Linked DNA regions of Homo sapiens: region 2 is linked to region 1. A link means that fine-mapping ties the variant in region 1 to the expression of a gene that starts in the linked region. Tissue or cell type: tibial artery. Region 1 holds a variant in brackets; the other region holds the start of a gene. All regions are shown on one strand. Distances are from middle to middle. Region 1 has its middle 20 kb from the start of ARPC5. Region 2 holds the start of NCF2 (neutrophil cytosolic factor 2).

Evidence for each region. PIP is the estimated chance that this variant, and not a neighbour inherited with it, causes the effect.
Region 2: NCF2 starts here. The variant in region 1 is the best candidate, but not a certain one, in a credible set for the expression of NCF2 in tibial artery (GTEx, PIP 0.73).

The regions. Positions count from the first base shown.
Region 1 is chr1:183,613,323-183,618,693 of GRCh38, reverse strand. No RefSeq gene overlaps it. Among named protein-coding and RNA genes, the nearest start is that of ARPC5, 20 kb to the left of the region's middle. The variant A/T (reference allele first, on the strand shown) is at 3,024.
Region 2 is chr1:183,587,507-183,592,877 of GRCh38, reverse strand. NCF2 (neutrophil cytosolic factor 2) reads left to right here and starts at 2,419. Exons shown (of 15, transcript NM_000433.4): 1 at 2,419-2,722. The coding sequence starts at 2,549. It also overlaps the pseudogene C18orf32P1. RefSeq lists enhancers at 1,690-2,029, 2,140-2,399.

The DNA.
Region 1 (5,371 bases):
CCTGGATACGGTTTTGTATGAATTGAAAAACTAAATGGAATAAGAGAAGGAGAAAAACAGGTATAAAAGGTCTAAGAATTGGGAGGACCTAGGACATCTGATTAGAGAGTGCCTAAGGACATTCAGCATAGTCCTGCCAGCAAAGATTATTTATTTACTTCAAGAGTTTAGAGTGGCAGTTTGGGGATAGCACCAGGAGATATCAGCTGTGATGGCTTGGAGAAACAGTGTAAACCGGCAGTGTAAACAAGAGCAGGGCATGTATGAGTAGTTGAGAATGGTGAATAGGAGTATGACTAGACAGAATATAGTAGGGATGACAAGTTTTTATGGGCACAGTCTAAGTTGGTCTGGTGTCGAATGAGACTGGGGCCTAATAAAAAGGAGCGTCTATACAGGAGCTTAAATGGGCTGTACCCTGTAGCATTCCGAGAACAGGCCTGAATTCTGAGAAGCGAAAGTGGTAAAAGTATTGTCCAGTCCTTTTTAAGTTGGTGGCTGAGCTTGGTGAGGTGTGTTTTTAAAAGACCTTTAGTCCATTCTACTTTTCTTGAAGACGGAGGACCGTAAGGGATATAAAGGTTTCACTGAATACTAAGAGCCTGAAAAACTGCTTGGCTGATTTGACTAATAAAGGCTGGTCTGTTATCAGGCTGTATAGAGGTGGGAAGGCTAAACTGAGGAATTATGTCTGACAGAAGGGAAGAAATGACTGCGGTGGCCTTCTCAGACCCTGTAGGAAAGGCCTTTACTTATTCAGTGAAAGTGTCTATTTAGACTAAGAGGTATTTTAGTCTCTTGACTCGGGCATGTTGAGTAAAGCTAATTTGCCAGTCCTGGGTGGGGGCAAATCCTCGAGCTTGATGTGTAGGGAAGGGAGGGGGCCTGAATAATCCCTGAGGAGTAGTAGAATAGCAGATGGAACACTGAGAAGTTATTTCCTTGAGGATAGATTTCCACGATGGAAAGGAAATGAGAGGTTCTAAGAGGCGGGCTAGTGGCTTGTACTATAGCATAACCTGCCTTTGCTGGTGTGCGGCGATTAGGCCTGGTGGAACTGCCATTAATAAATCAAGCATGATCAGGGTGAGGAACAGGAAAGAAGGAAATTTGGGGAAATGGGGTGAATATCAGGTGGATCAGAGAGATACAGTCATGGGGGTCAGGTGTGGTATCAGGAATAATGTGAGAGGCCAGATTGAAGTCCAGGCCAGGAAGAATGGTAATTGTGGGACTTAAAGAGTGAGTACAGCTGAAGGAGCCGGTGAGCAGAAAGTATATGCGTCAGGTATGAGGAAGAAAATAGATTTTGGAAGTTATGAGAACTGTAGAGAGTTAGTTGAGCATAGTTTGTGATTTTGAGAGCCTCTAAAAGTATTAAAGCAGTGGCAGCCGCTGCACGCAGACATGAGGGCTAGGCTAAAACAGTAAGGTCAAGTTGTTTGGACAGAAAGGCTACAGGGTGTGGTCCTGGCTCTTGTGTAAGAATTCTGACCGCGCTAACCATGCCTAGGAGGGAAAGGAGTTGTTTTGTAGAAGGTGCTGGGGTTTGAGAGATCAGTCGGATACGATTGGCAGGGAGAGCACGTGTGTTATTATGAGAATTATGCCGAGATAAGTAACAGATGAGGAAGAAATTTGGGCTTGATTAAAGTAATGGGGGCTGTCTGTGAAGCTTTGCGGCAGTACAGCCTGGGTCATTTGCTGAGCTTGATGGGTGTCAGGGTCAGTCCAAGTGAAAGCAAAGAGAGGCTGGGATTAAGGGTGCAAAGGAATAGTAAAGAAAGCATGTTTGAGATCCAGAACAGAATAATGGGTTGTAGAGGCAGGTATTGAGGATAGGAGAGTATATGGGTTTGGCACCACGGGGTGGATAGGCAAAACAATTTGGTTGATAAGGCGCAGATCCTGAACTAACTTGTAAGGCTTGTCTGGTTTTAGGACAGGTAAAATGGGGGAATTGTAAGGAGAGTTTATAGGCTTTAAAAGGCCATGCTGTAGCAGGCGAGTGATAACAGGCTTTAATCTTTTTAAAGCGTGCTGCGGGATGGGATATTGGTGTCGAGTGGGGTAAGGGTGATTAGGTTTTAATGAGATGGTAAGGGGTGCATGATCAGTCGCCAAGGAGGGAGTAGAGGTATCTTATACTTGTGGGTTAAGGTGGGGGGATACAAGAGGAGGACGCAAAGGAGGCTTTGGATTGGGAAGAAGGGCGGCAATGAGATATAGCTGTAGTCCAGGAATAGTCAGGGAAGCAGATAATTTAGTTAAGGTGTCTCAGCCTAATAAGGGAACTGGGCAGGTGGGGATAACTAAAAAGGAGTGCTTAAAAGAGTATTGTCTAAGTTGGCACCAGAGTTGGGGAGTTTTAAGAGGTTTAGAAGCCTGGCTGTCAATACCCACAACAGTTATGGAGGCAAGGGAAACAGGCCCTTGAAAAGAATGTAATGTGGAGCGGGTAGCCTCTGTATTGATTAAGAAGGGGACGGGCTTACCTTCCATTGTGAGAGTTACCTGAAGCTCGGCATCCGTGATGGTCTAGGGGGCTTCTGAGGCGATCGGGCAGTATCAGTCTTCAGCCGCTAAGCCGAGAAGATCTGGGAAGGAGTCAGTCAGAGAGCCTTGGGCCAGAGTTCCAGGGGCTCTGGGAGTGGCTGCCAGGTGAGTTGAACAGTCCGATTTTCAGTGGGGTCCTACACAGATGGGACGTGGCTTAGGAGGAATCCCGGGCTGAGGGCATTCCTTGGCCCAGTGGCCAGATTTCCGGCACGTGTAGCAAGCTCCTGGGGGAGGAGGTTCTGGAGGAAGGCCTGGCTGCTGCGGTTCAGGCGTTTGGAAGTTCTTGTGTGCTGGAGATGTGGCTGGGGTTTGTCTCACAGTGGAGGCAAGGAATTGCAACTTTTTTCTGTTATTGTACACCTTGAAGGTGAGGTTAATTAAGTCCTGTTTTGGGGTTTGAGGGCCAGATTCCAATTTTTGGAGTTTTATTTAATGTCGGGAGCAGATTGGGTAATAAAATGTAT[A/T]TTGAGAATAAGACGGCCTTTAGACCTTTTAGGGTCTAGGGCTGTAAAGCATCTCAGGGTTGCTGCCAAAGGAGCCATGAACTGGGCTGGATTTTTATATTTGATGAAAAAGAGCCTAAACACTTCTGATTTGGGATAAAGAAAAAGGAGCATTAACCTTGACTATGCCTTTGGCTCCAGCCACCTTTTTAAGAGTAAATTGCTGGGCAGGTGGGGGAGGGCTAGTCACGGAACGAAACTGTAAGCCAGACCAGGTGTGAGGAGGGGAGGTGACAAAAAGATTATAGGGTGGAGGAGCAGAGGCTGAGGAAGAATTGGGACCTAGCTCGGCCTGGAGAGGAGCAGCCTGGGGAGGAAGGGAGAGGTCAGATGGGTCTGTAGAAAAGGAAGATTAGAAAGACTCAGCGATGCTTGGGGTTGGTACTGAGGGGACAGGCGGGAGGGAAAGAAGGAAGATTTGGGACGAGTTGCACTGGGCACAGAGACTAGGAAGGGACTGATGTGTAAAAGAATGCCTGGACGTCAGGCACCTCAGACCATTTGCCTATTTTACAACAAGAATTATTTAGATCTTGCAAGATGGAAAAATTCAAAGTGCCATTTTCTGGTTATTTGGAACTACTGTCGAGTTTGTATTGGGGTCAAGCGGCATAGCAGAAGAAAATAAGGCATTTAGGTTTTAGGTCAGGTGTGAGTTGAAGAGGTTTTAAGTTTTGAGAACACAGGCTAAGGGAGAGAAGAAGGAGGAATGGAGGGTGGAAGGTTGCCCATAGTGAAGGAGACAAACCCAGAGGAAAGAGAGCGTAGAAACATGGAGGGAAGGGGTTCGGGGGTTCTTGCCCTCCCGAAAAGTGGGAAGGGGGTCGGGTCACGGAAATAAGGGATTGGGGCACAGAGATAAGAGGTTGGGGTGTGGAAATAAGGGATTGGGGGTTCTTGCCCCCTAGAAAAGTGGGACTTGTTGCTAAGGGTGAAGGAGAAGGGGTTGAGGGGAACTTGCCCCTCTCCCAGAAAAGCAGAGAAGGGGTAGAGACAAGGAGAGAAGGGGTTGGGGTACTTGCCCCTTCCCCAGAAAAGCAGAGAAGGGGTAGAGACAAGGACAGAAGGGGTTGGGGAACTTGCCCCTTCCCCAGAAAAGCAGAGAAGGGGTAGAGACAAGGACAGAAGAGGTTGGGGTACTTGCCCCTCCCCCAGAAAAGCAGAGAAGGGGTAGAGACAAGGACAGAAGGGGTTGGGGTACTTGCCCCTTCCCCAGAAAAGCAGAGAAGGGGTAGAGACAATGAGAGAAGGGGTTGGGGTACTTGCCCCTTCCCCAGAAAAGCAGAGAAGGGGTAGAGACAAGGACAGAAGGGGTTGGGGAACTTGCCCCTTCCCCAGAAAAGCAGAGAAGGGATAGAGACAAGGACAGAAGGGGTTGGGGTACTTGCCCCTTCCCCAGAAAAGCAGAGAAGGGGTAGAGACAAGGACAGAAGGGGTTGGGGTACTTGCCCCTTCCCCAGAAAAGCAGAGAAGGGATAGAGACAAGGAAAGAAGGGGTTGGGGTACTTGCCCCTTCCTCAGAAAAGCGGGACTTGCCGCTAAGGGTGAAGGACCAAGGCAGGTGTCCCTGCGTGGTCTGACACCTTTGAAACATGGGTGAATGATCAGAGAGGTGTGCCTGCAATGATTAAACACCAAGGGAAGGCTGCCTTCCCAGTCCGTGACTGGCGCCGGAGTTTTGGGTCTACGGATAAAACATGTCTCCTTTGTCTCTACTGGAAAATGAAAGGAATTGAAATTAAGAGAAGGGAGAGATTGAAGTGTGGCGCCAAGATTGAAAGGAGAAAGAGGTTGAGGGATAGTGAGGGAGGTTGGAGAAGAGAGTAAAAAGAGGCCGCTTACCGGATTTGAAATTGGTGAGATGTTTCTTGGGCTGGTCGGTCTGAGGACCTGAGGTCGTAGGTGGATCTTTCTCATGGAGCAAAGAGCAGGAGGACGGGGGATTGATCTCCCAAGGGAGGTCCCCCGATCCGAGTCACGGCACCAAATTTCACACGTGTCTGTGTGAAGAGACCACCAAACAGGCTTTGTGTGAGCAATAAAGCTGTTTATTTCACCTGGGTGCAGGTGGGCTGAGTCCAAAAAGAGAGTCAGTGAAGGGAAATAAGGGTGGGGCCGTTTTATAGGATTTGGGAAGGTAATGGAAAATTACAGTCAAAGGGGGTTGTTCTCTGGTGGGCAGGGGCAGGGGTCACAAGGTGCTCAGTTGGGGAGCTTCTGAGCCAGGAGAAGGAAATTCACAGGGTTAATCACTCAGTTAAGGTGGGGCAGGAACAAATCACAATGGTGGAATGTCATCAGTTAAGGCG
Region 2 (5,371 bases), 26 kb after region 1:
AGGCATAGCGGGAGAAGAGTAAGCAGCAGAGTTTGTATGGGATTGTGAAGGAAAGTTCTGGGGATAAGGCTAGAAAAGTCTTGGCAGTCAGATTAAGGAGAGTTCTGAGTGTCAGGGTGGGATAATAGGAGGGCAAAAACATTTTTTAAAAATGAAGTCTAATTTAGCTACAAATCCATTTGGTTTTCTCAGGAATAATTAATGTGCTATTCAAGTCCTGATTATTTATTCACTAGATGGAATAGCAATACCTCTTTCTGCCATCACTGCTACCTGCAGGTCATTTACCAATGATTTCTAATTTCTTTTAGAATGTATCCCTTCATCATGTATTGAGTATCTGTGCTAGAGATCCTAGAATGAAAAGGCATGGTCCCAACTTCCAAGGAGCCCATGAATTGAGCAGATAAAGAGATAAATTGCAGTAAGTATGATGCAAGTTTTTGGGTAAAGGTGGTACAAAGGAGAGGAAAATTCTCCTACTACCCAGAGTTCAGGGCTAGATTTAGCACAGTTGGTGACATTTAAACTGGGCTTTGAAAGATGAGTAGGAGTTTGCCAGGCAAAGAAGAGAGCTGGGAAGGCCTTGTAAACACAGGAAAACAATCTGGACAAAGACACACATGTCTTCTTAATTCTCACACCTTCAATCCTACAAGCACTGTGGAGTATACATTTTTAAGTTTTATTTTCAGGCTTTTAGGGGAAGCTTGGTGATAATGAGTGAATTCTTTCAGTTGCTACAAAACAAGAGTTTGCATCTAAGTATTTGACCCCCATAAACATGCATTTTACCTAAAAAGAAGCCTGGATTTTAGCAAGCCAAATTGGCTATACCCTTTACCCCCAGTTATTCCTCTGGGAGGTTTTACTGATTTTTACTTTTCTGGAAAAGCAAGGAAAGAACTCTTAAATCTGTTTTTTCAGAGACTAGTAAATCCATTAGTCATCAGTGCAGGACTTTCATCTCTTCAATTTTTCACTGGAAGATGGGAGAAGTCATAATTCACTGTCATGTGGCTCCCAATTTTGACATTTGCAGGAAATTGGTCCCCTCTGAACTTCATGAATGTTCATAAAAGTTATTTCGGCTGGGCACGGTGGCTCACTCCTGTAATCCCAGCACTTTGAGGGGAGGCCGAGGAGGCCGAATCACCTGAGGTCAGGAGTTCGAGACCATCAGCCTGGCCAACATGGTGAAACCCCATCTCTACTAAAAATACAAAAATTAGCAGGGCGTGGTGGCAGGCTTCTGTAATCCCAGCTACTCAGGAGGCTGAGGCAGGAGAATTGCTTGAACCCAGGAGGCAGAGGTTGCAATGAGCTGAGATCGTGTCACTGCATTCCAGCCTGGGCAACAAGAGTGAAACTCCGTCTCAAAAAAAAAAAAAAAAAAGTTATTTCAGGCCCAGATCAGATGGATCTCCAAAGATTATCCTGTCTCAAAAATTTGTTAATGATAATTTCAGCTCAAGATAAACACTAACATATTAATACAGCCTATGGGATTACAAAAAAGTGAGCAAGGAATTCATTCAAGACTGGAAAGAATTATCCTCTCATCTGACACTCCCATTTAACAAGGGTGTGGAAATCAAGGCCCAGTGACACAGGATTTTTTCTCCATCACTTTGTAAGCCAGGAACCTCTGGCTGGTGACACCCTGCCCAGGCCTCAGTGGGCCACACTACCTGCTGCAGGAGATGGCCTGCCCACTCGGCCTGGGTGGGGAGTTTTATTGAGTGATGAAAACAGCTTTCAGTGGAGAGGGGATGCAGGGGTGGTTCCCCTACCCAAAGGCAGGAAAGTCCCCCCAGTGCGGGTGAGTCTGGGGCTTTTATGGGCTCAGAATAGGGGAGGGGCAGGACATAGGTAGTACTGGAAAAGGCAACATTCAATTGGTTAAAAGGCATTAGTCAGAAATAATTAATTGGGAAAGAGCAGACAAACAGGAACAGAAGTTCTCACTCTAGGTCACGGGTTTCATTTGGGACCAGTAGCCTAGTCTTTCAGCCTTCAGGCTGTTTTTGGCTTGAAGGTGGGGTTTCACCAGGGACCTGCCCCTATCTGCCTAGGCATTTGGCTGCCTCCTGTCATTATCACCAGGGAGGTGCCTCTACCTGCCAAGGTTACCCTGGCTCTAGAAGCAGAACTTTGGCCAGAAGCTGCCACAGAACAGGGGTGGGAGAGAGAAGAGGAGCTGGGTGACAGAGCAGAAGCATTTTGGGGAACTGATCCTTCAGGCAGCAGCTGATGTACTTCCTCTCTCCTCCACACTCCACCCCTACTCGCCCTCTCTCTCTCTGCTTCTTTCCTTTTCTCTCTCATGGTAGGGTTATGAGTCAGTTGCCAAAAGGTGGGGACATTTCCTGATGCATTTGCAACACTGAGAAGTTATCTTAAGGGAGGCTGGGCCCCATTCTACTCATCTGGCCCAGAAAGTGAACACCTTGGGGGCCACTAAGGCAGCCCTGCTAGGGGAGACGCTCCAACCTGTCTTCTCTCTGTCTCCTGGCAGCTCTCTTGGCCTCCTAGTTTCTACCTAATCATGTCCCTGGTGGAGGCCATCAGCCTCTGGAATGAAGGGGTGCTGGCAGCGGACAAGAAGGACTGGAAGGGAGCCCTGGATGCCTTCAGTGCCGTCCAGGACCCCCACTCCCGGATTTGCTTCAACATTGGCTGCATGTACACTATCCTGAAGAACATGACTGAAGCAGAGAAGGTGAGTGGAGGTGCCTCTTTCCGGGCCTCCTCTGTGCATTTGTTATTATGATTCTCAACCCCATTGCATTTCGGAAACCTAACCTCTGGGGAGATTGAAAAGAACAAAAGTTGCCCAAGCTCCACCCCTAGACAGCCTGATTTAACTGGTCTGGGAGGGGCCCCAGGCAGCCAGTTTTAAAAGCTCTCCAGGTGGAGAGCAGGTGAGGGGCAGCCAGGGTTGCCTCTTTCTCCATCTTCTAAATTAAAATCATTCTACAAGTGTCTTTAACACCTTTGTGAAGGCTGTCCTAGTCGTACTTTCTTCTACACAGAACTCCTTCTGGGCACAGAATCTCTATCTATCCCAGCGCTTTACACCTGATTATTGATTCTAAGGCACCTCTTTTGGCTTTCCAAGACTTTCATGTGTGTCGACTTTGCCTGCTCAAGAGATTTAAGGGAGGCACTTACAAAAAATAGCTTTTATCCCAAGTGACAATTCTGATCAATTATAAAGGAGACTCTTTTAAAGATGCTGAGGCTGGCAAGAGGAAATTGTACTGTGATTGACTAGTGATGTCTGCTGGGGGCATGGTGTGGGATGTCTCGCATCTTTTTCGTTATGTTTTCTCACTCAAATACCATAGTATGGAGTTAAGCATTCTCGATAATTATTTTTTTGATTGGTTGTGGTAAGGTGGAAAGGGTATGGAGTTTGGAAGGAGAAGATCTAGGATCGAATCCTAGCCTCTGTCTCTCTCTGGACTTTTAGTCTTAAGCAAGCTATGTAGCCTATGTAGACATCTGGCTTTCAGCTTCCTGAGTTTCTAAATATCATGAAAATTAAGTGAGATGCCAAACTATTAATGTCTCGTGGAACTTCACACCACTGTATAAGAGTTAGTTATTATTTTTACCGATTACTGCCAGTCTTTGCAAGGTGTGGCAGTGGTTGACTCCCCAGGTCCCTTAAAGAATCAGTCCCTTCCACACTCCAACAGTAGGTAAACAAGCCTCAGCCACACCCTCCTGACAGGAAGACAGAGAAGTGACTGAAATGTTCTCACATAGCTTGACAAGTCAATCTCAGGCTCTAAGGCAGAGCATGGCAGGACCCCCCACCTCTGGCTGGAGGAAGGACATGGCCCCACCTCCTCTCAGGGGCCTGCTGAGGGGCTGAGTGAACAGCACCACACATTCTGAGGGCTGATGGACACAAAGTGCACATTGTCCAGGAGAAGAGATTGGCAGCTAGTCTGGGCACAGCTATGCCAGCAGGGACTGTAGCCTCCTGCCTTGGCCTGGATATGGGATCCTTGGCAAGGTTGTGTGGGCCACCACTCACTTCTCAGCTCCCAGGCCTTCAGGCCCACATGTCTCTGTTTCTCCTGGCATTCCTCTGCTTCTAGCCTTCTCATTCCTTCTGCCTTTCTTTGTTTTCCTGCTTGAGCCCTTCCTACTAGCATTTATATGCATTCTTATTCATTATCATTTTAATTGTATACTATTCATGTATAAGTTTGTATAGTAAACAAATATAACAATTTATATAATATTTTAATTATTTTCATTTGCAATAAATTTTATTATTTATTTAAACTGAATGTTCAATACATTCATAGGAATACAAGAAATGCAACAAGGGTTAAAATTTCATTATTACATTAGATATCATTTTTTCTTTCTTTTTTTTTTTTTTTGAGATGGAGTCTCACTCTGTCACCCAGGCTGGAGTGCAGTGGTGCAATCTCGGCTCACTGCAACCTCTGCCTCCTGGGTTCAAGTGATTCTCCTGCCTCAGCCTCCCAAGTAGCTGGGATTACAGGCATGCACCACCAAGCCCGTCTAATGATGTTTCATTTTTCAAAGAAGCTTCTCCTATTTCCCTATCTTTTTTATCTTCCACAGAGCAATAAATAGTAATTACTACTCTCCTGGACAAGGTGCTCTGTTGTGTTGGATAGGAATTGTATCTTTAAGTTTGACATCATTATCACCTCCAAAAACTCTACCTTCACTTCATAGCACAGTCTCGCTGCATTGTTTCACAGTAAAATTGTACTCTACTCAAACTAGGAGAACTCAAAGAAATTAGAGCAAACAGCAGTTAAATTCATATGAATGAAAGACAGAAGACCAAAGATTTTAAAGTACTGATTTAGTAACATAGTGTCTACTGGCTCAAAGCTTCTATCTAATCATATTAAATCATATTATTAAAACAGCGATAATAGAAATGAAAGCTACACTAATGAAAAAGGAACTTGGGAATGAGGTCATTAAATATAACTAACTATATTTTAAATATAGATATGTATTTTTTATTAGTATCAGGTAAATGTCTAAATTATCTATTCTGAATTCTAGTCTCAGAGAAGGTCAGAGACAGTTACAAAGAAGGCGCTTCATATTGTCAAGTCCATTTTTAAAATGATGAGCTCCTTTGGGAAAATGCTTTAGTGTTTCTTTTCTTCTAAGATTTCTGTTGGTGATAATCCATTAGTGTCTGCACCCTTATAGTCCACTTTGTCTTTATTTGTATCATTGGATTTTTTTTTTTTTTTTTTTTTTTTTTTTTTGAGACAGGGTGCCTTACTTTGTTGCCCAGGCTGGAGTGCAGTGGTGCCGTCACAGCTCACGGCAGTCTCCACCTCCTGGGCTTGAGCGA